Linked DNA regions of Homo sapiens. The protein of the gene in region 1 purifies or fractionates together with the protein of each later gene. This does not show direct contact. Each region holds a gene or a part of one and is shown in the gene's direction. Other genes may lie near its edges.

What was found.
Region 2: the proteins of NHLRC2 (region 1) and PIBF1 purify together in Homo sapiens (affinity purification with mass spectrometry, with the first as the bait; one large-scale study listed by BioGRID). This does not show direct contact.
Region 3: the proteins of NHLRC2 (region 1) and TKT purify together in Homo sapiens (affinity purification with mass spectrometry, with the first as the bait; one large-scale study listed by BioGRID). This does not show direct contact.
Region 4: the proteins of NHLRC2 (region 1) and AHCY purify together in Homo sapiens (affinity purification with mass spectrometry, with the first as the bait; one large-scale study listed by BioGRID). This does not show direct contact.
Region 5: the proteins of NHLRC2 (region 1) and HSPE1-MOB4 purify together in Homo sapiens (affinity purification with mass spectrometry, with the first as the bait; one large-scale study listed by BioGRID). This does not show direct contact.
Region 6: the proteins of NHLRC2 (region 1) and STAU2 purify together in Homo sapiens (affinity purification with mass spectrometry, with the first as the bait; one large-scale study listed by BioGRID). This does not show direct contact.
Region 7: the proteins of NHLRC2 (region 1) and A2ML1 purify together in Homo sapiens (affinity purification with mass spectrometry, with the first as the bait; one large-scale study listed by BioGRID). This does not show direct contact.

The regions. Positions count from the first base shown.
Region 1 is NC_000010.11:113,899,661-113,903,160, forward strand, and holds part of NHLRC2 (NHL repeat-containing protein 2), read left to right. Parts: intron 1-2,005; coding exon 2,006-2,237; intron 2,238-2,810; coding exon 2,811-2,933; intron 2,934-3,500. UniProt on the Homo sapiens protein: Required for normal embryonic development.
Region 2 is NC_000013.11:72,795,633-72,799,132, forward strand, and holds part of PIBF1 (progesterone-induced-blocking factor 1), read left to right. Parts: intron 1-2,274; coding exon 2,275-2,394; intron 2,395-3,500.
Region 3 is NC_000003.12:53,246,023-53,249,522, reverse strand, and holds part of TKT (transketolase), read left to right. Parts: intron 1-3,500. UniProt on the Homo sapiens protein: Catalyzes the transfer of a two-carbon ketol group from a ketose donor to an aldose acceptor, via a covalent intermediate with the cofactor thiamine pyrophosphate.
Region 4 is NC_000020.11:34,283,062-34,286,355, reverse strand, and holds part of AHCY (adenosylhomocysteinase), read left to right. Parts: intron 1-721; coding exon 722-916; intron 917-3,294. UniProt on the Homo sapiens protein: Catalyzes the hydrolysis of S-adenosyl-L-homocysteine to form adenosine and homocysteine. Binds copper ions.
Region 5 is NC_000002.12:197,506,879-197,510,378, forward strand, and holds part of HSPE1-MOB4 (HSPE1-MOB4 protein), read left to right. Parts: intron 1-3,500.
Region 6 is NC_000008.11:73,425,341-73,428,840, reverse strand, and holds part of STAU2 (double-stranded RNA-binding protein Staufen homolog 2), read left to right. Parts: intron 1-3,500. UniProt on the Homo sapiens protein: RNA-binding protein required for the microtubule-dependent transport of neuronal RNA from the cell body to the dendrite.
Region 7 is NC_000012.12:8,829,121-8,832,620, forward strand, and holds part of A2ML1 (alpha-2-macroglobulin-like protein 1 isoform 1 precursor), read left to right. Parts: intron 1-606; coding exon 607-659; intron 660-1,541; exon of another isoform or gene 1,542-2,186; intron 2,187-3,500. UniProt on the Homo sapiens protein: Is able to inhibit all four classes of proteinases by a unique 'trapping' mechanism. This protein has a peptide stretch, called the 'bait region' which contains specific cleavage sites for different proteinases.

The DNA.
Region 1 (3,500 bases):
TGTAATCCCAGCACTTTGGGGGGCCGAGGCAGGCAGATCACAAGGTCAGTAGTTCGAGACCAGAATGACAATATGGTGAAACCCCGTCTCTACTAAAAATAGAAAAAGTTAGCTGGGCGTGGTGGCGCTTGCCTGTAATCCCAGCTACTCAGGAGGCTGTGGCAGGAGAATCGCTTGAACCCAGGAGGCGGAAGGTTGCAGTGAGCTGAGATTGTGCCACTGCACTCCAGCCAGGACGACAGAGTGAGACTCCGTTTAAAAAAAAAAAAATTGAAATTGTTCCTTATATAAGTAAGAGGAAGACGCAACATCAGTAAGATTTGAGTTGTCAAGGAGGGCTTCTTGGAAGAGGCAACTAAACAGTGACCTGATAAGAGTATAGGAGTTAGGGAGAGTGGAAAGTTTTCCAGGCAAGAATTGGCACTAGTGATGTCAGTAGAAGCCAGATCACACTGTGCCTTGTGAGTACTTTTAGGGATCTGAATATTCTACAAGCCTTTTTAGAAAGGTTTAAGCTGGGAAGTGACATGATTAGATTTGTGTTTTTGAAAGAACATTGGCAGCACTCAGAGTGGAACAAGACTAGAGACAGAGATAAGAGATACCACTGAGGAGCCTATTGCTGTTATCCAGGCAAGAGATGATAGTAGCCTGAACAGTGAGATTACCAATAAGATTTTACATGAGGCATAATTATAAACAGCAGAGAAGTAACAGAAGTTGCCAGAATATGCTGTTCTGGGTGATGGCTGTTTTAGGCATAGATGATTCAGAGCTGCCTGAATTTCCTCATAAGTAGAGTTGTCACTCTCCTTCTTAATAGGAAATTGGCACTAGGACCACACTGACCTGTGTTTTAATTTTAAGGATGTATTATCTTTATTACCGATCTTCAGGTAGTAATGACCCTTAGCATTTTAAAAGTTATTGTTTCTCCCTACTCTTTTCTTTATTTAATTAAGGAAACTCCTTTTTAAAGTATTAAGACTCCTTGTAGACTCCTTTCAATTAATTTGTTCAGCATATTAGTTATTACATATATTGTACTTGCTATGTTTATATGTTTCTTGAATAAGTGGCCATATTTTATGCGTGCTAAATCCCTTTGCCTCTGTCCCCTGCTCCCTACCTAACTTATTATGGGAACATATTAGCCAGTAAGTGATGGTGAGTTCAGACTTTTGCATGTTGTACCATATTCAGAAATGATTTACACAGACTCTCATTTTGTGTCCCGAGTCAGCTGCTTCCCTTCCCTCAACACAACACACTACCATGTCTTTTTTACAGTCTCTCTGGAATAAACTTAGAAACCAGGATCTAAAGCTTTCTCTGCATTACAAAAGGAATCATTGCAATAGTTCCTTAAATAGAAATTTCCCTAATGTATATAAGAAATTGATTTGTACAATCGATATAATTGTACATAATTATCCCATGTAATTTTAAGATAATTATGTACAATTATATTATTTTTCATATAATAGTAATGTCTGACCTGGCCAACTTTCAAAAACTATTCTTTAATTCCTTTTGCTGGTCTCTGTTTATATATAAGAACACAAAACATTTTTAATGAAAATTGAAGCTTTAAACTATCAAGAGCTAGATGATCTTTTTAGTTCCCTTTCCGAACCTCATATTGCATGAAACTAAGAAGTTAAGAATTTAAGGTAGTAAAAACAACCTATCTCATCAATAATCTGATCATTATTTTTATCTTATAATTCTATCAGGGATTTGTCGTTTAACATTTGAAAGTGATTTCAGTTTTGTGTGTATCAAAGTAAAGTAAGAAGTTCCCTACACAGTGGGTAAATAAGTTAATGGTTGGAAAAATGATAATGAAAGCTGACTTGAACAATTTAACTAGACCAAGATCACTAGTTTGTTTTTTTAGGAGGCTTATCACTTTTGATTTGATTATTCACATTCATTTATTTAAGAACTAAATTGCACACAATATACCACATGTTGACTCCACCTATGAACTTGTCTTTTTCAGTGAGTTAACAAAAGGAACCTGCCTTAGGTTTGCTGGAAGTGGAAATGAAGAGAATCGAAACAATGCCTATCCTCACAAGGCAGGTTTTGCCCAACCTTCAGGCCTTTCCTTGGCCTCTGAAGATCCCTGGAGCTGCTTGTTTGTAGCAGATAGTGAGAGCAGTACAGTGAGAACCGTTTCACTGAAAGATGGAGCAGTGAAGCACCTCGTAGGAGGAGAAAGAGACCCCATGGTAATGACAGTCACTCTTGCACAGTGCGCTCGGACACTGAGCAAGCTGTCAATTTTGTGAATTATGGAAAGTTAATAAGATTTAAGAGAGACCATCCTTGGCCTATCTGCGAATCAAAATGAAAGTCAGACCAAAGGAAATGTGAATGTAAAGCAACGTGAGGAACACACCATCTAAGAAAAGTGAACTGACTCTACTTTATTATGTATAAATGTTAAGGTTTCAGGGAGAAAGAAAGGATGAAGCATTGATTATTGGAGAAAAGAAAAAAATGTAAATTAGATATTGGGCAGTGGGGTGGAAAGAGCACCAGACTAGTGGACTTGACCTATTCCTGACCAGATGTAGTATTGTGAGTAAAACTACTAAGCACCACCAATTAATACAGGTTCAAAATACTGTCATTTTTTTTCTAATCTGAATGAAGTATCCAACCCTATTTATATGAAAATCAGCATTTTCCCTTTTAACTTAAATACCATTTGTAACTGTTTGAATTTTCCTTCATATTCTAACAAAACACTGTAAAAATTATAATAACTGCTGTTTCTTTTCTTTTAAAAAAAATTAAAGAATTTATTTGCTTTTGGTGATGTTGATGGAGTAGGAATCAATGCAAAGCTTCAACACCCCCTTGGAGTAACATGGGACAAAAAAAGGAATTTACTTTATGTTGCAGACTCCTACAATCACAAGGTGAGTCGTGACAGAATTATATAATATCTTGCTTTTTGTGTGTGGCATTTAAAATGCTGAAAGATCTGTGAGCCTCCTACAACTGCCACTCTAAAATATAGAAAGGAGTAACAGTCTTTGACAACTATAACCCAGCCTGTTCTGCTCTTTTCTTGGTCCTTTCTTTGCCAAGAGGTTATGATGGTATTCTGAACTAGGGAAAGCACAGAACCAGTTCCAATGGCAATAGCCAACAGTTGTGAATTGCAACCCATCAAAGCTGCTTAGTAACATATTCAGTATATCAAGAGAAGGCAAGTAGCAGGGAAATTTATATGTCATCTAACAAATGAACGTTTTTGAGCTGTTGCATAGTTACAGTGCTTGTTAGTAAATAATTTTGTTTTCAGCATTTCCATTTTTGTCTATTAAATTGTCTTAAGTTTTATTGCATTTTTACTTTTTACAAAAATCAGTGGATAATAAATGTTCATGCAGTACTTCATGATGTGAGACCATAAATTTAATATAATTGAGACATAACTGTCAATCATTAAGTTTAACAAAGGTAGCAAATTCTCAGGCAAT
Region 2 (3,500 bases), on another chromosome or scaffold:
ACTTTTGAAGTACCCAATTGATACATTATTTTATGGCTATGGATGGTGAATGGTGTTGAGATCCAAATTTTAAAGGATCATGACCATTGATCTCCAAAGTCAAGCAATAAATAGGTTTCTGAAGTTAATGACTGCATAGTCCATAGAAATGAATTATCGTAAACTGGTGGTTTCTTACATTCTCAAAATGAAAAATTATAAACAACAGAGTAGTTGTTGCCAGGGGTTGGTTGGGGATAGTGGGAGAGAGGAGTCAGCGTGGTTATAAAGGGATAGGATGAGAAAGAACTTTGTGGTGAGAGATTGGCGCAAGATCTTGATTGCAGTGCTGGTTACACAAATCTAGAACACCTAGGATTAATCTATGGCAGTGGTCTCAAATATTTTGGTGTCAGCATTCATTTACATTCTAAAAGTTATTGAGGACCCCAATGAGTGTTTGTTTATATGGGCTGTATCTATTAATATTTACCATACTAGAATTTTAAACTAACAACTTTTTTAAACACAAGAATAAGCACACAATTCCATTGGCCTTAAGAGTGATAATGTCATATGTCATGTAGCCACTGGCAAACTCCACTGAACAGTCATGAGAGAATGAGAATGAAACGGGGAAAAAAAATCTTAATAATTACTAGGAAAGTCGTTTTGATCTTGTGAATTCCCTGAAAGGATCTCAGAGTGGCGAGTGGGGCAGAGTCCAGGAGTCCCAAAACCATATGTTGAGAACTGCTGCTTTTTAATATGTAGATGTCATTTTACCCTGAGAGGCTTGAATTTTTTAATCCCTAAAAAGGGTTAATAGTAACGGTGCGTTTCTATTGGGGATAATTGTAAAGACTATAACTATGTATGTAAAATGCTTGTGAGCATAGTGCTTAGAAGATAGTAAACACATAAAAATGTTGTCTATTGTTTTTGCTGGAGTGGTGGTTGCTATTCTTGGTTCTCATTGGGAAAAGATTTGCAGATTAGTGATGTCTGATAAAATGAAGTTACTTTTTTGTTCAGCTGTTTTTTTTTTTTTTTTAAAAGGCTCAAATACAGCTTTTCTGTCCAAAGTATACTGTCCAAAACAAATTAAATATCTCAAATTCTGTTTTTGAGGCTTCATTTACAGTAGATATAAAGTATCACACTGGTGGCAGTTACACATATTTTTGCTGTTTGTTTTCTTAATATTCCTTCTTACATCTTTTGTTTTCACAGACAATATTATCCTTAACTAATTAATTATATGCAGATTCTTTTTGTTGAGGGCTAGTATTAAGATTTGCCTCTTACCAAATAATGGTATTCTTGTAATACCGTCATATGTTAAGGAGTTTCAGATTGCATGCCTATATGATAGCCCCTAATTACTCTCTCCTAATTTGCTGTGATGATTTCTTAGTTTTATGGGACCTTGTCAGATGGAACACTTTACTGAGCTAGGGTAGGAAAATTTCTCTGAGACAAGTATGAGTGGAAAGAGAGACCTGAACTAAATGGAAGTAATGATGTGAAAGATACCTCTTGATTCATTCTGATTAGACTTCCACTGTAGGGACAGCAGTAAATAAAGCTTTGCCAAGAGCCTGGGATGAAAATAAAGAATACACTTTACCTCTTCATCAAGTATTTATTGAGTGCTTATCATATATTTAGGCATTGGAAATACAGCGGTGTATAAACCAGACAAAAATCCCTGCCCTCAGGTTGTGAAAGTGGAGCAACACAGGCAATAACTTAAAAATTAAATATGTAGAATATCTGTTTGTCAAAGGTGCTACAGAGAAAAGAGCAGGGGTGAAAAATAGGGAGTGCTACTTAAAATTAGGTAAAGAAATCAGGGAGGGCTTTACTAACAAGGTAATATTTGGTCAGAGACCTATAGGGAGACAAGGCATGAGCCATGCATTTATATGGGGGAAGAACTTCTCTAGCAGAAGAAACAGCAAGAGCAAGACTCCTGAACATTTGTGATATGTTCCAGAAGTTTACAAGCACCTAGTGTGGAGTGAGCAGTAGTAGATGAGTAGTAATGGAGTGTCAGTAGAAGGGAGGAAATACTGTCAAAGGTAAGAGGTTATAAATCATCTGGCCCTTGAGGGAAGTTAATTGAACATTAAGGCTTGATAGAAAGTATTAGTGGCTAGGGTCCATTAATGACTGTCTTGTTGTAGTTTTGTAAATATTTATCTTTATTACTGATAAGTGAGAGCACTACAAATTACAAATTTTAATTGTAATTTGGATTTAAGACTGCTTATTAATTTAATTTTTTTCAAGGTTCGCTTCTATGAGCTAGTGAATCCATTAAGAAAGGAAATCTGTGAACTACAAGTGAAAAAGAATATCCTAGCAGAAGAATTAAGTACAAACAAAAACCAACTGAAGCAGCTGACAGAGGTTTGTATGGTTTTGATTGCTGGTGGGAAGAAGCTTCGGCTTTTTCTGTAGAGTCCCTCAGGATTTGTGATAAGGCATATAAAAGTCAGTGATTGAAAAATGGGACTATGGGATGGTGACTGCTACAGTTCAATAATGGGAAGGAGGTTAAATTGGAAGTAGTCATCTTAAACATTGACAAGACAAGTCTGTGTTATTGACGTATCCTATAGTTGAGCTTTTATTGTTGCAAGTCAATTTTATAATCAACTGCTTTTGAAATCCTAATATGGGCTATATCTGAAAATTGCTGTGTATCCTTAGATGACGCATATGCATGTATTTATTTAGTAATTTGTCTCTATTTTTAACATCACTTTGTCAGGAAATTTAAGCAAGAAACAAGAAATGTAGGCCAAGCTATGCAGGGGATCTCTTGCAGGTGCCATAAGAAAGAAGAAAAGGAGAATATTTTTACTTTGAACTAAGTTGACTCGTAGGTTCTGGTTTGCCTAAGACTGTTGCCATTATTCCTGTGAATAAATATTAATAGCACCCCTTTATTTTCAAAATTATCTCAGCCTAGACGATGAATATAGTAATCATAAATCAACATTTATATAGAAGGGTGGACTAATCATTAACTTGGTTGTATTATTGACCAGATATCCTAGAATACTATCTTGTAGTTATAGTCTACTAACAAAAAAATAATGGTAGATTGATTCATTCTACCATGTAACAGTTGGAAATGGGTGGCTGTTTTTCTTCAAATATTTCGTTATTCTAAAAGGAAAACACTTCTAGTTTACAAATGGGGGCTGCTGCAGTTCTTCATTACAAGTTAGCCTTGTTCGTGATATGAGATGGAGCTACTGTCCATTTATTACTTACGTGGCTTCTTTGTGAAGTGCAGTTAACTCTCATAATATTTATTCTGAGCATGTGTACTGATACTAGCATTAACCCCAGTGGTGTGCATGGTGCTGTGCTAGGTGCTGGCAGTGAACCCAAGAGAGGCAATGCCTGCCCTTCTAGAGTTTACTTTCTAGCAGGTTAGGATTAGAACGTTAGGTGATATTTTGACACTCTCATTTACTGTGTGACCATGACCAGGTCATTTAATG
Region 3 (3,500 bases), on another chromosome or scaffold:
GTAACCTCCACATCCTAGGTTCAAGCGATTTTCTGCCTCAGTCTCCCAAGTAGCTGGGATTACAGGTGCATGCCACCACTGCCCAGCTAATTTTTGCATTTTCAGTAGGGATGGGGTTTCACCATGTTGGCCAGGCTGGTCTTGAATTCCTGACCTCAGGTGATCCTCCCGCCAGCCTTGGCCTCCCAAAGTGTTGGGATTACAGGCGTGAGCCACTGCTCCAGGCCCTTTTTCTTTTAAAAACAAATTTTTAGGCCAGGTGTGATAGCTCACACCTGTAATCCCAGCACTTTGGGAGGCCAAGGTGGGTGGATCATTTGAGGTCAGGAGTTCGAGACAGCCCAGCCAACATGGTGAAACCCTGTCTCTACTAAAAAATACAAAAAAAATGAGTCGGGCATGGTAGCAGGCACCTGTAACCCCAGCTACTCGGGAGGCTGAGGCATGAGAATCGCTTGAACCCGGGAGGCGGAGGTTGCAGTGAGCCAAGATTGTACCACTGCACTCCAGCCTGGGTGACAGAGTGAGAACTTGTCTCAAATAAATAAATAAATAAAAATAAAAACAAATTTCTAGCAGCTTGATTAAGGTATAATTGGCGTATCATAACATTGTAAGTGATTTTAATGAATTTGCAGAGATTTACTACAAAAATTTACCACATCTCCTAAAAGATCTCTTCTGGACATTTGCTGTCACTCCCCATTTCCACCCCCAGTCCTGGGCAACCACTAATCTAATTTTCTGTCTCTAAATTTAACTCTTCTAGACATTTCATATAAATGCAATTATACAGAATGAGTTCTTTTGGGTCTGGCCTCTTAGCATAATTTTTAGAGGGTCATCCATGTTGTAACATGAATCAGTACTTTGTTCCTTTTTTTTGGGGGGTGGGGGGCAGGGTCTCCACTGTGTCCCGAAGCTGGAGTGCAATGGCACAGTCATGGCACACTGCAGCCTCAACCTCCCGGGATCAAGCAGTCTTCCCAGCTCAGCCTCCTAAGTAGCTGGGAGGCACTCACCACCATACACAGCTAATTTTAAAAATTATTTGTAGAGACAGGGTATGTTGCTGAGCCTGGTCTCAAATTCTGGGCTCAAGTCCTCTTCCTGCCTTGGCCTCTCAAAGTGCTGGAATTAACAGGCATGAGCCACCACGCCCAGCCCTTCATTTCTTTTTACGGCTGAATATTCCGTTGTGTGGACATAGTGCATTTTGTTTATCCATTCACCAGTTTTTCTTAGCATTTTGCTCTTATCCTAGCTCTGCTGCTGGCAGGCCGTGTGACTTTAGGCAAGTCACTTTCTGTGAACCTTAGTGGCCCCATCCTCCGAATGAAGCATAGTCTAATATTTACTGAGCAATTGCTAATTTCTATGCATGGTGCCACGTTCTGTACATACACACTACATCATTTAGTCAGATTCTTCTTTTACCTCCGTTTTATAGTGAGGAAACTGAGGCTCAAAGAGGTTACAGCCCCAAGGTTACTAGGATACATCATGTATTCATTTGTGCACTCAGTTTGTGCCTGGTACTATTCAAGCCTGTGGATACAACAGTGAAAGGCCCAAAGCTCTGTCCTCAAGGAGCTTGTATTGCAGTAGGGTAGACAGGCAATAACCACCTAATGTCAGGTGGCAAGCATGAGTGAGGGGAAGAAGAGCTATTTTAGACAGTGTGGTCAGGGAGGGCTTCTTGGAAGAGGTGACATGGGGCAGAGATCTGAAGAAACAACCTGAGGTCTGGAGCCAGAGGTTCTTTCCGGGCAGAAGCCAGCTCGGGTAGTTCAGGGCACAGGAAGAGCAAGAACTGCTTCTGATGTTCATTTCCACCCTGACATCCTGGGATTCTCTCCTGAGTATTTTTTTTTTTTTTTTTTTTTTTTGAGGTGGAGTCTGTTGCCTAGGCTGGAGTGCAGTGGTGCGATCTCGGCTCACTGCAGCCTCTGCCTCCCAGGTTCAAGCAATTCTCCTGCCTTAGCCTCCCATGTAAAGTAGCTGGGACTAGTGGCCCGCACCACCATGCCCAGCTAATTTTTGTGTTTTTAGTAGAGGCGGGGTTTTGCCATGTTGGCCAGGCCGGTCTTGAACTCCTGACCTCAGGTGCCTCAGGTGAGCCACCGCCCCTGGCCTCTTCTAAATTTTTTTTTTTTTTTTTTTTTGAGGCTGAGTTTCACTCTTGTCTCCCAGGCTGGAGTGCAATGGTGAGATCTCAGCTCACTGCAACCTCTGCCTCCCAGGTTCAAGCGATTCTCCTGCCTCAGTCTCCCAAGTAGCTGGGATTACAGGCACCCACCACCATGCCCAACTAATTATTGTATTTTTAGTAGAGACGGGGTTTCACCTTGTTGGCCAAGCTGGTCTCAGACTCCTGACCTCAGGTGATCCACCTGTCTCTGTCTCCCAAAGTGCTGGGATTATAGGCGTGAGCCACCTGAATATTTAAAAAAAAAAAAGTATATGCATAAAGAAGAAGATAAATGATGTACTCTTGTCATAAATAATGAACCTGTGTGTAGCTGCTCCCAGGATTAAGAACTAGTACATTACAGTGATTTTTGGAACTACAGTGGGTCCCTCCATCCTCATCTTCCCTTCCCCTGAGAAAGAACTATACCCTGAATTTTTTGTTTGTTATCATTCTATTGTTTTCCTTTTTTTTTTTTTTGAGACGGAGTTTTGCTCTTGTTGTCCAGGCTGGAGTGCAATGGCGCCATCTCGGCTCACTTCAACCTCCGCCTCCCGGGTTCAAACGATTCTCCTGTCTCAGCCTCCCGAGTAGCTGGGATTACAGGCATGTGCCACATGCCCGGCTAATTTTGTATTTTTAGTAGAGATGGGGTTTATCCGTGTTGGTCAAGCTGGTCTCAAACTCATGACCTCAGGTGATCTGCCCTCCTCGGCCTCCCAAAGTGCTGGGATTACAGGCTTGAGCCACCGCACCTGGCCTGTTTTCCTTGTAGTATATACAAAAAGACTTGTACATAAATCAATATGGTCTTCTTTGTTAAACAGATCCTTCTGCACTGTGCTTTTTTCACACTATATTTGGGAGAGAATATTGATACCGGATTTGTGAAGTGTAGCTCGCTCATTCTTACTGCTGTATAGTATCCCATTATATTAATATATTCCAGTTAACCTCGTCTATTGATAAACATATAAGTGAGTTCCAGGTCTTGCAATTGCAAACAATGCGGGGCAGCCCTGTTTGTGTTTCCTTTTTTTTGTTGTTGTTGTTGTTTTTTTCCTGAGATGGAGTCTCACTCTGTCACCGAGTCTAGAGTACAATGGCACGATCTTGATTCACTGCAACCTCAGCCTCCTGGGTTCAAGTGGTTCTCCTGCCTCAGCTTCCCAAGTAGCTGGGATTACGGGTGCCTGCCACCATGCCCAGCTAATTTTTGTATTTGTAGTAGATACAGGGTTTCACCATGTTGGCCAGGTTGGTCTCGAACTCCTGACCTCAGTTGATCCACCCACCTCAGCCTCCCAGA
Region 4 (3,294 bases), on another chromosome or scaffold:
CAGTTTCTGAATCTGAAATGGGGATGACAGCAGTACTGAAATCACAGGGTTGTTTCTGGGATGAAATGTGGTAGTTACCTGTAAAGGACTTAGTACAGGGCACATGACAGTGATCATAACGATAACATTAGCTGCTGCTTACTGAGTGCCTCATATGCGCCAAGCAAGTGTGAGCACGTGAAGTTCTCACAGCAGAACTGTGCAGTCTGCAGCTCAGCATTTCTTTGTTGTTTTTTTGTTTTTTGTTTTTTGAGACAGAGTCTCGCTCCGTCGCCCAGGCTGCAGTGCAGTGGTGCGATCTCGGCTCGCTGCAAACTCCACCTCCCAGGTTCACGCCATTCTCCTGCCTCAGCCTCCCGAGTGGCTGGGACCACAGGCGCCTGCTACCACGCCCGGCTAATTTTTTGTATTTTTTTTTTAGTAGAGACGGGCTTTCACTGTGTTGGCCAAGATAATCTCGATCTCCTGACCTCATGATCCGCCTGCCTCGGCCTTCCAAAGTGCTGGGATTACAGGCGTGAGCCACCGTGCCCCGGCCAGCTCAACATTTCTTAATAAATATTGGCTGTTATTTTTGTGCTAAGCCATGTGCTGGAGGTTGTTTTGGAGCAGTTCGGACTCCTCATGGGCACTGTTGGAGGCAGAGAGGCCTGCCAGATCAGAGGGTGGGCTGTGGGAGCGGGGCCCTGCCTGCCTTCACTGTTGCCCTGCCTGCGTGTAGGTGGACCGGTATCGGTTGAAGAATGGGCGCCGCATCATCCTGCTGGCCGAGGGTCGGCTGGTCAACCTGGGTTGTGCCATGGGCCACCCCAGCTTCGTGATGAGTAACTCCTTCACCAACCAGGTGATGGCGCAGATCGAGCTGTGGACCCATCCAGACAAGTACCCCGTTGGGGTTCATTTCCTGCCCAAGAAGGTGGGTTTATTCTTCTACCTCAAGCCAAGGGTCACGTGTCTAATCCTGGGATCCCCACACAGGGCTTGCCAGAGTTTATAAAGTGCTTGCCTGTCTGCCCTCTTAGAGGCCCTCATGGGGTCCTCTACAGTGCAGAAGTCATTCTCCCCATTGACAGAAGAAGAAACTGAGACCCACAGTAGGGAGTGGCTCCCTGGAGCACAGCAGAGCGGCAGGACCAGGTGGTGAGGAGAGCCTGGGCCTTGGAGCGGGACACACCCCAGTTTGAATCTCAGCCCCACCACTTACAGGCTGTGTAATCCAGGCAAATTCTTTCTCTGTCTTCATTTTCTCATCTGTGAAATGAAGGTAATAGCAACCCCCTTCAGGATTGTGAGGATTTCCTGAGATCATGAACCCACACACCCACAGGGGCTAGGCAGGTAAATGAGTGATGCCAGCTGAACAAGGACTGGAAGAGCTGAAGGGGTAAAGGGCTGGTTGCCACCTAGGAACCCAGGTCCGTCTGACCAGGGCTTCTAACCTTTCAGGAGAGCCAGAGATACCAAGATCTCTATACAAAATGATTTTCAAATACAGGCAACTCATTAAAATTTTATTTTGATTTTGATTTTTTTGAGATAGAGTCTCACTCTGTTGCCCAGGCTAGAGTGCAGTGACGTGATCTCGGCTTACTGCAACCTCCACCTGCCGGGTTCAAGCAATCCTCCCACCTCAGCCTCTTGAGTAGCTAGGATTACAGGCAGATGCCACCACACTTGGCTAATTTTTTTGTATTTTTAGTAGAGACGGGGTTTTGCCATATTGGCCAGACTGGTCTCGAACTCCTGATTTCAAGTGATCCACCCGCCTCGGCCACTGCACCTGGCCTCATTATAATTTAAAAAATAACTGGGTGGGTTAACTTGGACATGTGTATAAGCTGAGTGCAGTCTGCAGGCTGCACGTTGTGGCCTTGTAATAAGATGATACATCCCTGGCCAGGCGCGGTGGCTCACACCTGTAATCCCAGCACTTTGGGAGGCCGAGGTGGGCAGATCATTTGAGGTCAGAAGTTGGAGACCAGCCTGGCCAACATGGTGAAACCCCATCTCTACTAAAAATACAAAAAAATGAGCTGGGCATGGTGGCGCATGCCTGTAGTCCCAGGTACTTGGGAAGCTGAGGCAGGAGAATTGCTTGAACCCAGGAGGTGGAGGTTGCAGTGAGACGAGATTGTGCCACTGCACTCCAGCCTGGTGACAGAGTGAGACCCTGTCTCAAAAAAAAAAGATACATCCCTAAGCATGGCATCTCACTATGGTTGTATGGTCTGCATACTCATGAAGATGAAGTCCTCTGACATGAAATCCAGTGCTCACCCTAACACCCCATGCAGTCCACCCTTCCCTGGGGTCAGGACAGATGTTTTAGTCCTGGCTTTTCTTGGCAGTTTTACAGGTGAACTTTGCTTTGTCCCTTACCCTGTCCAATCCTCAGTCTCCTTATGAGCTAAATGGTAAGAGTAGCTCTTGCTCTTCCAGCCTTTTGCTGCTGGAGAAGCTGTGATGGGGTCTACATACCATCCCTTCATCTTTTGAAAGGCTGGTTCTACCAATTGAGGAAGACGCAGGAAGAGGCCTGGGGCATCTGCCTCCAGGGCCAGCCAACAACTAATCTCCCTGGAGCAATGTCTTGCTGGACCAAACATTTTACTCATAAGGACCTCAAGGCATACCTTGTTCTGTGCAGCTGGTTGTGGGGTTGAAAGATTCTCACTTGATCCCCATCTAATCCCAGTTGGGAGAAATATGGCTATGAGTTTGGTGAGAAATTGGTCAGGCCTTTGAAATGAGGGCAGGGTTGGAAGTGAAAGAGGCAAAGCTCCCGCCTCAGCACCTGACCCTGTCCTTACCACTTTTCTTCATCATTGCTAACATGTGGCTTGGGGACAGGACACTCTTGGCATCATGCCTCACATGCTGTATGCAGGCAAGGGACTAGGTACCTTGGTCAACAATGACAGAGAAGGCAGCCACCATTTATTAAGTCACCTACTGCACGAATGACTCTGAGTAGCACTGATCTTTGTAACAGCCTTGAGAGATGAGTGATCCATCCATCCTGCGAATGGGGAAAGTCAGGTGTAGAGACCGACTTGCTCTCACAGATGTTAAGTATCAGGCCAGGAATAGAACCTAGCTCTGTCTGTCCAAGGTGTTGACCTTAGGACGTGACACACACCTTCTGGTTCAGGGTGCTGGGAGAAGGAAAAGTTCTGGGCTAGTCCGGGCCAAGCAGAAGGTTGATTTCAATGTGTACTGTGGGGGTTGGAGGCCATCGTTCTACCTCTGGAACTGACGTGGACTCAGTTCTAGGCTGGGCCCTGGTCCTACTGT
Region 5 (3,500 bases), on another chromosome or scaffold:
TTCTGTATTACCAATGAGAAACCTTGACTTAAGAGATAAGAAATCGTTCCAAGGACATGTGGCTAATATATTGTAGAGTAAGGAATCTGTTCAAAGGCTATGGCTTTCCCATTATTCTCCAATGCTATTTTCCTAAGACCCAGCAAATTAGTTTTGATATCTAAGGTAATAGTTCACAAAGCTTGGTTCATCTTTGCAATTGCCTGGTAAACTTAAAATTTCAGGGCCTCATCCAAACCTACTAAATCAGAAGGATAAGAGAATTTTTGAACCACAGAAGCAGTCCTATTGTGATGCCTGCCTAGCAGAATTGCTAAAGAAATAATTTTTTTTCTTTTTTTTTTTCTTTTGAGACGGAGTCTCACTCTGTTGCCCAGGCTGGAGCACAGTGGCACGATCTCGGCTCACTGCAAGCTCCGCCTCCCGGGTTAATGCCATTCTCCTGCCTCAGCCTCCTGAGTAGCTGGGACTACAGGCGCCTGCCACCACGCCCGGCTAATTTTTTTGTATTTTTAGTAGAGACGGGTTTCACCATGTTAGCCAGGATGGTCTTGATCTCCTGACCTCGTGATCCGCCGCCTCGGCCTCCCGGAGTGCTGGGATATTTTTCTTTTTTTTGAGACAGAGCCCTATTCTGTCTATCTGGCTGAAGAGCAGTGGTGTGATTATAGCTCACTGCAGCCTCGAACTCCTGGGCTCAAGCAATCCTCCCACTTCAGCCTCCAGAGTAGCTGGAAGTACAGGCCTGTGTCACCACGCGTGGGTAATTTTTTATTTTTTGACAGGGTCTTCCTCTAGTGCTCAGGCTGGAGTGCAGTGGTGCTATCATGGCTCACTGCAGCCTTGACCTCCCAGGTTCAATTGATCCTCCCACCTCAGCCCCCTGAGTAACTGGGACTACACATACATGTCACCATGCCCTGCTAATTTTTGTTTTTTGTTTTTTGTTTTTTTTTTTGAGACGGAGTCTCACTCTGTCGCCCAGGCTGGAGTGCAGTGGTGCGATCTCGGCTCACTGCAACATCTGCCTCCCGGGTTCAAGTGATTCTACTGCCTCAGCCTCTTGAATAGCTGGGATTATAGGCACCCGCCACTGCGCCCAGCTGATTTTTGTATTTTTAGTAGGGATGGGGTTTCACCATGTTGGCAAGGCTGGTCTTGAACTCCTGACCTCAGGTGATCCTCCTGCCTCGGCCTCCCAAAGAGCTAAGATTACTGGCGTGAGTGACTGCAGCCAGCCAATTTTTGTATTTTTTGTAGAGACTGGGTTTCACTATATTGCCGAGACTGGTCTCAAACTCCTGGAGTCAAGTGATCCTCCCTGCTTGGCCTCCCAAGGTGCTGGAATTACAGGTACACAATTTGTTTTTTAGTGAATGGTGTATGTATCTGACTTTCTTTTTTCAGAGATGGGGTCTCACTGTGCTCTCCAGGCAGTTTTTGCTCTCCTGAGCTCAAGCAATATTCCTGCCTCACCCTCCAGAGAAGCTAGGACTACTTTATTTTTTTAATCAATGAGTAGCTTGTTGTCACAACTTTACTTACTGGATTATCCATTCTTCTCCCTGCACACCACTCCCCGACCTCCCTTCTCTCTATGCCCAGAAATCAGAGATGTTGCCTTTATCATATACGAAATTTCTAAATATGCCTATTCATGGGTTTAATAATTTGTTCCATTGACCTCCCTATTCCATCACATTGCTTTCAATGTAAATAGCTTTATATTTAAGTTTGACATCTGATAAGGCAAGTCCTCCCTGTACCTATTCACCTGCCTGAGAGTATGTTCTTTGTTCCTATATGAGCCGCCAGCTTGTTCTTCAGTGTTATACCAAGTCATGCTTCCTCCAGCAAGTTAATTACTGTTTTCACTGCACCCACACAAAAATGGAGTTTTGAACTTTTGACTTATTTGTGTGACGAGTATTTAAATCCAATCCCTTCCCTTCCCTTCCTTTTCTTTTTTTTTTAGAAGGAGTTTCGCTCTTGTTGCCCAGGCTGGAGTGCAATGGCACGATCTCGACTCACTGCAACCTCCGCCTCCCGGGTTCAAGCGATTCTCCTGCCTCAGCCTCCTGAGTAGCTGGAATTACAGGCATGTGCCACCACACTTGGCTAATTTTTTTTGTACTTTTAGTAGAGATGGGGTTTCACCATGTTGGTCAGGCTGGTCTTGAACTCCTGACCTCAAGTGATCCACCCACCTCAGCCTCTCAAAGTCCTGGGACTATAGGCATGAGCCACCACACCCAGCTTAAGTATATTTTCCTTTACTCTCAAGCAACCTCTATGAGAGAGCCCAATCAATCCCAGCTCTTGTCCTGTGTTGCTTACATACTAGTTCTGCTACATTTGACAAATTACCTAACCCCTCTTAGCTTATGAATGAACTGCAAAACAAGGGCATTAGATTTGCCTCTTAACGTTTTGAGTCAAGCCTGTTATTTTGTTGTTAAACTTTTATTTATTTAAAAATAAATAATATGTTCATGTAAAAATTTAAAATTATAGACACTGAAAAGAATGCTCTCTATCCTTGTCCCCCAGCCACCCAGTCCCATCCTTGGAAGTAACTAGTATAATTTTTGTATTCTTCCTTTAAGGTGTTTTATGTATATACACATATATGTAAATGTGTACTATATATGTACATATCTTATGTATATAAAATATATATTCATTTTTTCTTTTTCAAAAAATAATATTCCATACATAACATTTGACACCTTGCTTTTTTACATTAACAATTGGTCTCTGGGATTAATCTATAGATAAAGACACTTTAAGACTGTATAATGTTCAATTATATGGATAAGCCATAATTTATTTCAGGATGCACCCCCAGCAATGATAGATATTTAAGTTATTCTAACCTTTTTCTATTAGAAACACTTCTGCAATGAATAAATGTATGCATAACTAAATATGTACATTTGAACAAGCATATCTATAAGATAAATTCCTATAGAACTGCTACGTCAAAGGGTCTGTGAATTTTAATCATGCATGTACGCAGATACAGACATGGATCTCCAAGTTGTCCTTCATTGAACTCCCATCAGTTTTATTTATTTATTTATTTATTTATTTATTTATTGACACAGAGTTTCAGTCTTATTGCCCAGGCTGGAGTGCAGTGGCACGATCTTGGCTCACTGCAACCTCCACCTCCCAAGTTCAAGTGATTCTCCTATCTCAGCCTCCTGAGTAGCTGGGATTACAGGTGCTCGCCACCACGCCTGGCTAATTTTTGTATTTTTAGTAAAGATGAGGTTTCACCATGTTGACCAGGCTGGTCTCAAACTCCTGATCTCAGGTGATCCACCCGCCTCCAAAGTGCTGGGACTACAGGCATGAGTCACTGCGCCCAGCCAAAAGGTCCATGAATTAACAGTCCTACTAGCAATGTATTTTTTTTCTTCTTACTCTCTGTAATGCAGGATGTTATAAAGTTCTTATTTTGCCAATCTGATAATTTTACTCTTTATCATGATGAA
Region 6 (3,500 bases), on another chromosome or scaffold:
TGAGACCTGGCCTTCGTCTCATATATGCAGTTCTCTTCAGATGGAAGAGAGCAGGTGCCATGGGTCCTGGACTGGGTGAAGCAGGTCATTTGGTTCTGGTGTTCAGGCCACACTAAGAACCAAGTATTCCCAGTGTACCTAGTGAAAACAGGCTATAAGTAGCCTAAAAACGATTTTTTAAAAGATTTTTAAAAATTGTTTTTAGTTGTTGTTTTGCCCTTGCTAGGAATAAAACAGGACCGAGAAGCCCTAGAGCTCGTAGGAACCCCATTCAGCAGTATCACATTGCACAGTTCCATTTCCTGGCTCTCAGTAGCCCTCTGTGATGGTGCTTTTGGGATCCAGCACTGTCACATCTGGGTATTTACCTAAAAAGTTTGAAATTTGTGTGTCAAGAGATATCTGCACCCTCATGTTTATTGCAACAGTATTCACAATAGCAAAGATGTGGGATCAACCTAAATGTCCATTAATGGATGAATGGAAAAAGAAAATGTGGTATATAGACACAATGGAATATGTTCAGCTTTTAAAAAGGAAGAAATTATGTCATTTGCAACAACATGGATAGAATTGGAGAACATTATGCTAAGTGAAATATGCCAAACATAGACAAATCCCACATGTTCTCATTTATATGTGAGATATAAAACAATTGAACTCCCAGAAGCAGAGAGTACAGTGGTGGGTACAGAGGCTGGGGGTAGGTGGAATGGGAAAATGATAGTCAAAGGGTACAAAGTCTCAGTCAGATAAAAAGGATAAGTTTGATTTTTTTGGACATCTACTGCACAGTGTGGTGAATATAGCTAACAGTTGAGTACTGCACATTTTGATATTGCTCTGAGAGTATATTTCAGGTGTTGTCATCACAGAAAATGTTAAATAATTTATCATTATGTTACAAAAAATAATAAAATTTCAAATGTAATTGTCCACTTTGGAAGAAATTCATAAATTTCAGAATTTATGCCAATAATTCACATTTTAATGGCTCAGAAGAAAAGTAACTGGTCTTTTGTTAAAACTGTTGAATATACAAAGAACTTGAAGTTCATGAGCCCACTCCGTGAAAATGGGAATATCTGGAAAAAGGTCTGGCATGGATTGGTCCTTGGAGCCTACAAGTGAGTGAGCCTGGCCTTTAGCGCCCCACGCGCATGTGTGAGGTGGGACAGTGGGCCCCGGTTGATGGACACAGGCTGTGGGCACATGCACTGCCCTCAGCATAGCCGCCTTAGCACTTCAGGACTTAAAAGGACCTCAGAGTCACTGAATCAAAGCTCCCTGAGAGTCAAATTCCTCTGTGAATTCCTTTCTTGCAGGGAGGGTGGGGAGAACTGTCCAAACCTCAGTCTTTTGAGGGTGAGTTTAATTTTTGAAAACAGCAAAACTTCAGACAAAGCCAAGTCTAGTGAAGAAGGTCAACAACCAGGATGAACACATTAAAATAAGGTGGGGCCAAAAGATGACAAAACTGGTTTGCTTCTCTGACCCACAAAATGGTTCTGAGAGGTAATTCCAGAAGCACCTAGAGTAACACCCTCCTCCCACTGCTGCTGCCGGCACAACCTCTCCAAGGGTGGATAGAGAGCTCATATTAACATCTTTAAGGCTGGGCACAGTGGCTCACGCATGTAATCCTAGCACTTTGGGAGGCTGAGGCAGGCGGGTCACCTGAGGTCGGGAGTTCGAGACCAGCCTGACCAACATGGAGAAACCCCATCTCTACTAAAAACACAAAAGTAATCTGGCGTGGTGGTGCATGCCTGTAATCCCAGCTACTCGGGAGGCTGAGGCAGGAGAATCGCTTGAACCCGGGAGGCAGAGGTTGTGGTGGGCCGAGTTCACGCCATTGCACTCCAGCCTGGGCAACAAGAGCAAAACTCTGTCTCAAAAAAAAAAAAAAAAAAATCTTTAAAAATGGACATCATCTTTGGCTCAGAAATGCAATTTTAGGAATTTATCATAAGGAAAGTATTGAGATGATGCATAAAGATTGAACCAATAGGAAATTTGATGCAGTGTTGGTATCACACAGGATATCGATAGGATACTGTGCAGTCATGAGAAATGATGCTACCGAAATGTTTCTGTTGATACTGCACACATTCAATGAAAAGAGCACACAACAGATGAACGGACAAAAAACCATGGTATATGTATACAATGGAATACTACTCGGCCGTAAAAAAAGAATGAAATCCTGTCATTTATGGCCATGTGGATGAAACTGGGCGAATGTGAAGTGAAATGAGCAGGGCACAGAAAGTTAAACACCACTTGTTCTTGCTCATGTGTGGAAGCTAAAAAGGTTGATCTTACAGAAGTAAAAAGTAGAACAGAGGATATTAGAGGTTGGGAAGGGTAGGGGGAAGAGAGGGATAGGGAGAAATTTATTAAAGGATACAAAATTATAGCTAGATATGAGGAATAAGTTCTATTGCTCTATACCACTGTAGAAAGACTATAGTTAACAGTAATATGTTCTATAGTTTCAAGCAGCTAGAAGGAGAATATTGTATGAACCCAACAAAAAGAAATGATAAATGTTTGAGATGATTGATGTACTAATTACCTTGATCTGATCACTATGCATTATGTGTATTGCAACATTGTTACCCACCCCATGAATGTGTACAATTATTATTTATCATTGAAAAAAAAAAAAGCAGGTTACCTACAGTGTTAAGACATGATCCAGGCTACAGTTTGTAGACATGGGGAGAGGATACTAAGTGATATGGAGGCTGGGGGCAGAGGCGCATGCCTGTAATCCCAATACTTTGGGAGGCTGGGGCAGGTGGATCACTTGAGGCTAGGAGTTCAAGACCAGCCTGGCCAACATGGTGCAACCCTGTCTCTACTAAAAGTACAAACATTAGCTGGGTGTGGTGGCTCATGCCTGTAATCCCAACTACTCAGGAGGCTGAGGTGCAAGAATTGCTTGAACCCAGGAAGTGGAGGTTGCAGTGAGTCAAGATCACACCACTGCACTCCAGCCTGGGTGACAGAGTAAGACTCCATCTCAAAAAAAAAGAGAGAAAAAAAACAAGTGATATGGAAAGACGTGCGCCAAGATGTGAATGGTGAGCAGGATTGTGGATACTTTTTACATTCTTTTTGCTTGTCTATATATTCTGACTTTTCTGTAACAAAAAACTATTTTTATAACAAAAAATAATACAGGGAGAGAGAGAGAAGAGAGAGAGAGAGAGAGATTTTGCTATCCTTAAAGAGAAGCTATGAGGTCCCTGTACAGTTTGCTGGAGCTGCTGTAGTAAAGTACTACCAACTGAGTGGCTTCATCAACAGGAGTGTATTGTCTCACAGTTCTGGAGGCTAGAAGTTCAAGATCAAGGTGCTGGCAGGGCTGGTTCCTTCTGAAGGCTGTGAGGGAGAATCTGTCCCAGGCCCCTCTCCTCACTTCGAGTGCTTTGCTGGCAATCTTTGGTGTTCCTTGGCTGCTGCGGCATCACTCCAGCCCCTACCACCATCTT
Region 7 (3,500 bases), on another chromosome or scaffold:
TCTTCTGATTTTTGGTTCTTATGACAGTGCTGTTTTGCGTGGGCAGTTGTTCAGTTTGGTGTTACTGTGGGGGATGAGGAGGGTGGTCAATGGAGGCTTCTATTCTGCCTCTTGCTCTGCCTCCTGAGCTCCAGGCCTGTGTTTGGACTTTACCTTACTCTCAGAGCAGGTTTTGTAAAAAAGTAAAACCTGTTGGGGTTTTGCTGACTCAGAGCATGTGTGAGGAAGGAGGAGGGATAGAGGAAAGATTCTGAGCAGGAGGCGGAGCGCGGTGGCTCACGCCTATAATCCCAGCACTTTGGGAGGCCAAGGCAGGTGGATCACCTGAGGTCAGGAGTTCATAGACCAGCCTGGCCAACATGGTGAAACCCTGTCTCTACAAAAATTAGCCAAGTGTGGTGGCACCTGCCTGTGGTCCCAGCTACTCCGGAGGCTGGGGTGGGAGAATCACTTGAGCCCAGGAGTTTGAGGCTGAAGTGAGCCACGGTTGTGCCACTGCACTCCAACCTGGGTGACAGAGTGAGACCCTGTATCAAAAAAAAAAAAAAAAAAAAAATTCTGAGCCAGGAAACATCCCCTTTGCTAATGATGCCTGTTCCTTTCCAGTGTATTTCCGCATTGTCACCATGGATAGCAACTTCGTTCCAGTGAATGACAAGGTGAGTTGGGAGGAGGAGAAGGAGTGGCGCAGGGAGAACAGGGAAAAGGATGAGAGATTCTCTAGGGTGGAAGTCCTCTCAGCCTGGGCGTGGCAAGGCGAGGCCCTCTGGGTTGGAGACTGCTGTGTGCGTGGGACTGGAAGTGCTGGGCGAGCTTCAGGGAGCTAGCCTAAATCAGCCTAGGAACAAGCAGAGGTAACCAGTTCTCAGCTTCAGTATCTACACATTCATCAGGTTCTTGAGAGATGGTTATGCTCCTTGTCATTTTATTTTATTTATTTGTTTATTTAGAGACAGAGTCTCGCTCTGTGGCCCAGGCTGGAGTGCAATGGCGTGACCTCAGCTCACTACAACCTCTGCCTCCTGGGTTTAAGCAATTCTCCTGCCTCGGCCTCCCAAATAGTTGGAATTACAGGCGCGCACCATCACGCCTGGCTAATTTTTGTATTTTTAGTAAAAACAGGGTTACATCATGTTGGCCAAGCTGGTCTCAAACTCCTGACCTCAAGTGTTCCACCCACCTCGGCCTCCCAAAGTGCTGGGATTACAGACAAGAGCCACCATGCTCAGCCCCCTTTCATTTTAAGAGTTTTCGCAAACTTCAAGACCTTTTCTTCAGGACTGACAAAAGCATTTTTTTTTTTAAGGCAGAAAGGAGAATGTCCGCTTCCACTCTGTTTCTATGAGGCAAAATAATTTACAAAGTAGGTAATTCTCTTAGGGCAACATTAAATAAATACATGCCAAAGCTTAAAATGTAGCAACATTTTGCGAATATTTGATTTTTCCTTGGACTCCCCATCCCTAGAATCATAAGCCTTACCACAGGTTTGATTTCAAGTTGGAGCATGTGTCATTTCTACATGCTTCTGAGACACTTACCTCCCGGACACCCCTGCTTTCTTCCTCTTCCGTCTGTCCCAGCCTGTGTATTCAAATGAAACTTTTAGAGATAAACATAGAGAAAGCATGATTTCCATTTTCCATCTCCGTGTTCTCAGAGCTGCTGTTTCCTTTCCCTATGTGCAGGGGAGTTATTAGCTTGTTATGATTGGTAATGCCCTACCCGCTACTCTCTTTCCCAATATAGATTTCCTTTTACTTCCTCCTTCCCATCACCTATGGCTTTTCTTTGGTAGGTATAACGTTGAGTACTTCTTACTTTTTTTTTTTTTTTTTAACATTTTAAGACAAGGTCTCATTCTGTCACCTAGGCTGGAGTGCAGTGGCAGTCATGGCTCACTGCAGCTTTGACCCTGCCCCGGGCTCAAGTAATCTTCCCATCTCAGTCTCCCCAGTAGCTGGGACCACAGGTGTGCACTACCACACCTGGCTAATTATTTTATTTTTTTGTAGAGTTGTGGGGGGCGGGGGTCTCACCTTGTTGCGCAGGCCGGTCTTGAGCTCCTGGCCTCTCTCGCTTTGGTCTCCCAAAGTGTTGGGATTATAGGCCTGAGCCACTGCACCCGGCCTGAGTGCTTACTTCTTAACAGACTGTTTTCTCTAGAGCTGCAACAAGGAAGTGCTGGGTTCAAAGCGTGGCCCGCAGCAGCACTATTTTAGACTCACTTACCCTCAGGGTTGATCTCATTAACTACCCCTGTTACGATTCAAATGAAGCGGGATTACTTCCAGGTGTTCTGTTTTCTGCAGTTAGGCTCTTTCTCTTGTGAAATTACTCCTTCCTCCCCACTCTATTTCTCCAGCCAAACTCTCCCTCCAAATTCAGTTGAAACACTGAGATTAACAAAAGGAATTTTACCAAGAAAGCTAGGATAAAAATTGTGTTTATGTAACCACCCAATGGGTTCACCTTGCCTGCTGCTTAGACAGGGTTGATTTATCGAGACAGGGGAATTGCAATGAAGAAAGAGTAACTCACCCAGAGCCGGCTGTGTGGGAGACTGGAGTTTTACTGTTACTCAAATCAGTCTCCCTGAGCATTTGGAAATCGAGTTTTTTTTTGTTTTTGTTTTTGTTTTTTTTTGAGACGGAGTTTCATTCTTGTTGCCCAGGCTGGAGTGCAATGGCGCGATCTCGGCTCGCCGCAACCTCTGCCTCCCAGGTTCAAGTGATTCTCCTGCCTCAGCCTCCCAAGTAGCTGGGATTACAGGCATGCGCCAACACGCCCGGCTAATTTTGGTACTTTTAGTAGAGACGGGGTTTCTTCATGTTGGTCAGGCTGTTCTTGAACTCCCGACCTCAAGTGATCCGCCCGCCTCGGCCTCCCAAAGTGCTGGGATTACAGGCGTGAGCCACCGCGCCTGGCCAGGAAATCGAGTTTTTAAAGATAATTTGGCAGGTAGGGGCTTGGGAAGTGGGGAGTGCTGATTGGTCAGGTTGGAGATGGAGTCATAGATGGTCAAAGTGAGGTTTTCTTGCTGTTTTCCTCCTCCTGGGTGGGATGGCAGAACTGGTTGAGCCAGATTACTGGTCTGGGTGGTGTCAGCTGATCCACTGAATGCAGGGTCTGCAGAACATCTCAGGCGCTGATCTTGGGTTTTACAACAGTGATGTTCTCCCCAGGAGCAATTTGAAGAGGTTCAGACTCTTGGAGTCAGAGGCTGCATGACCCCTAAAGTGTAATTTCTAATCTTGTAGCTAATTTGTTAGTCCTGCAAAGGCAGACTGGTCCCCGGGCAAGAAGGGGGTCTTTTTGGGAAAGGGCTGTTATCAATTTTGTTTCAGAGTCAAACCATGAACTGAATTCCTTCCCAAAGTTAGTCTGGCTTACACCCAGGAATCCACAAGGACAGCTTACAAGTTAGAAGCAAGATGGAGTCGGTTAGGTCTGACATCTTTCACTTTCATAGTTTCCTCAGTTATAATTTTGCAAAGGCG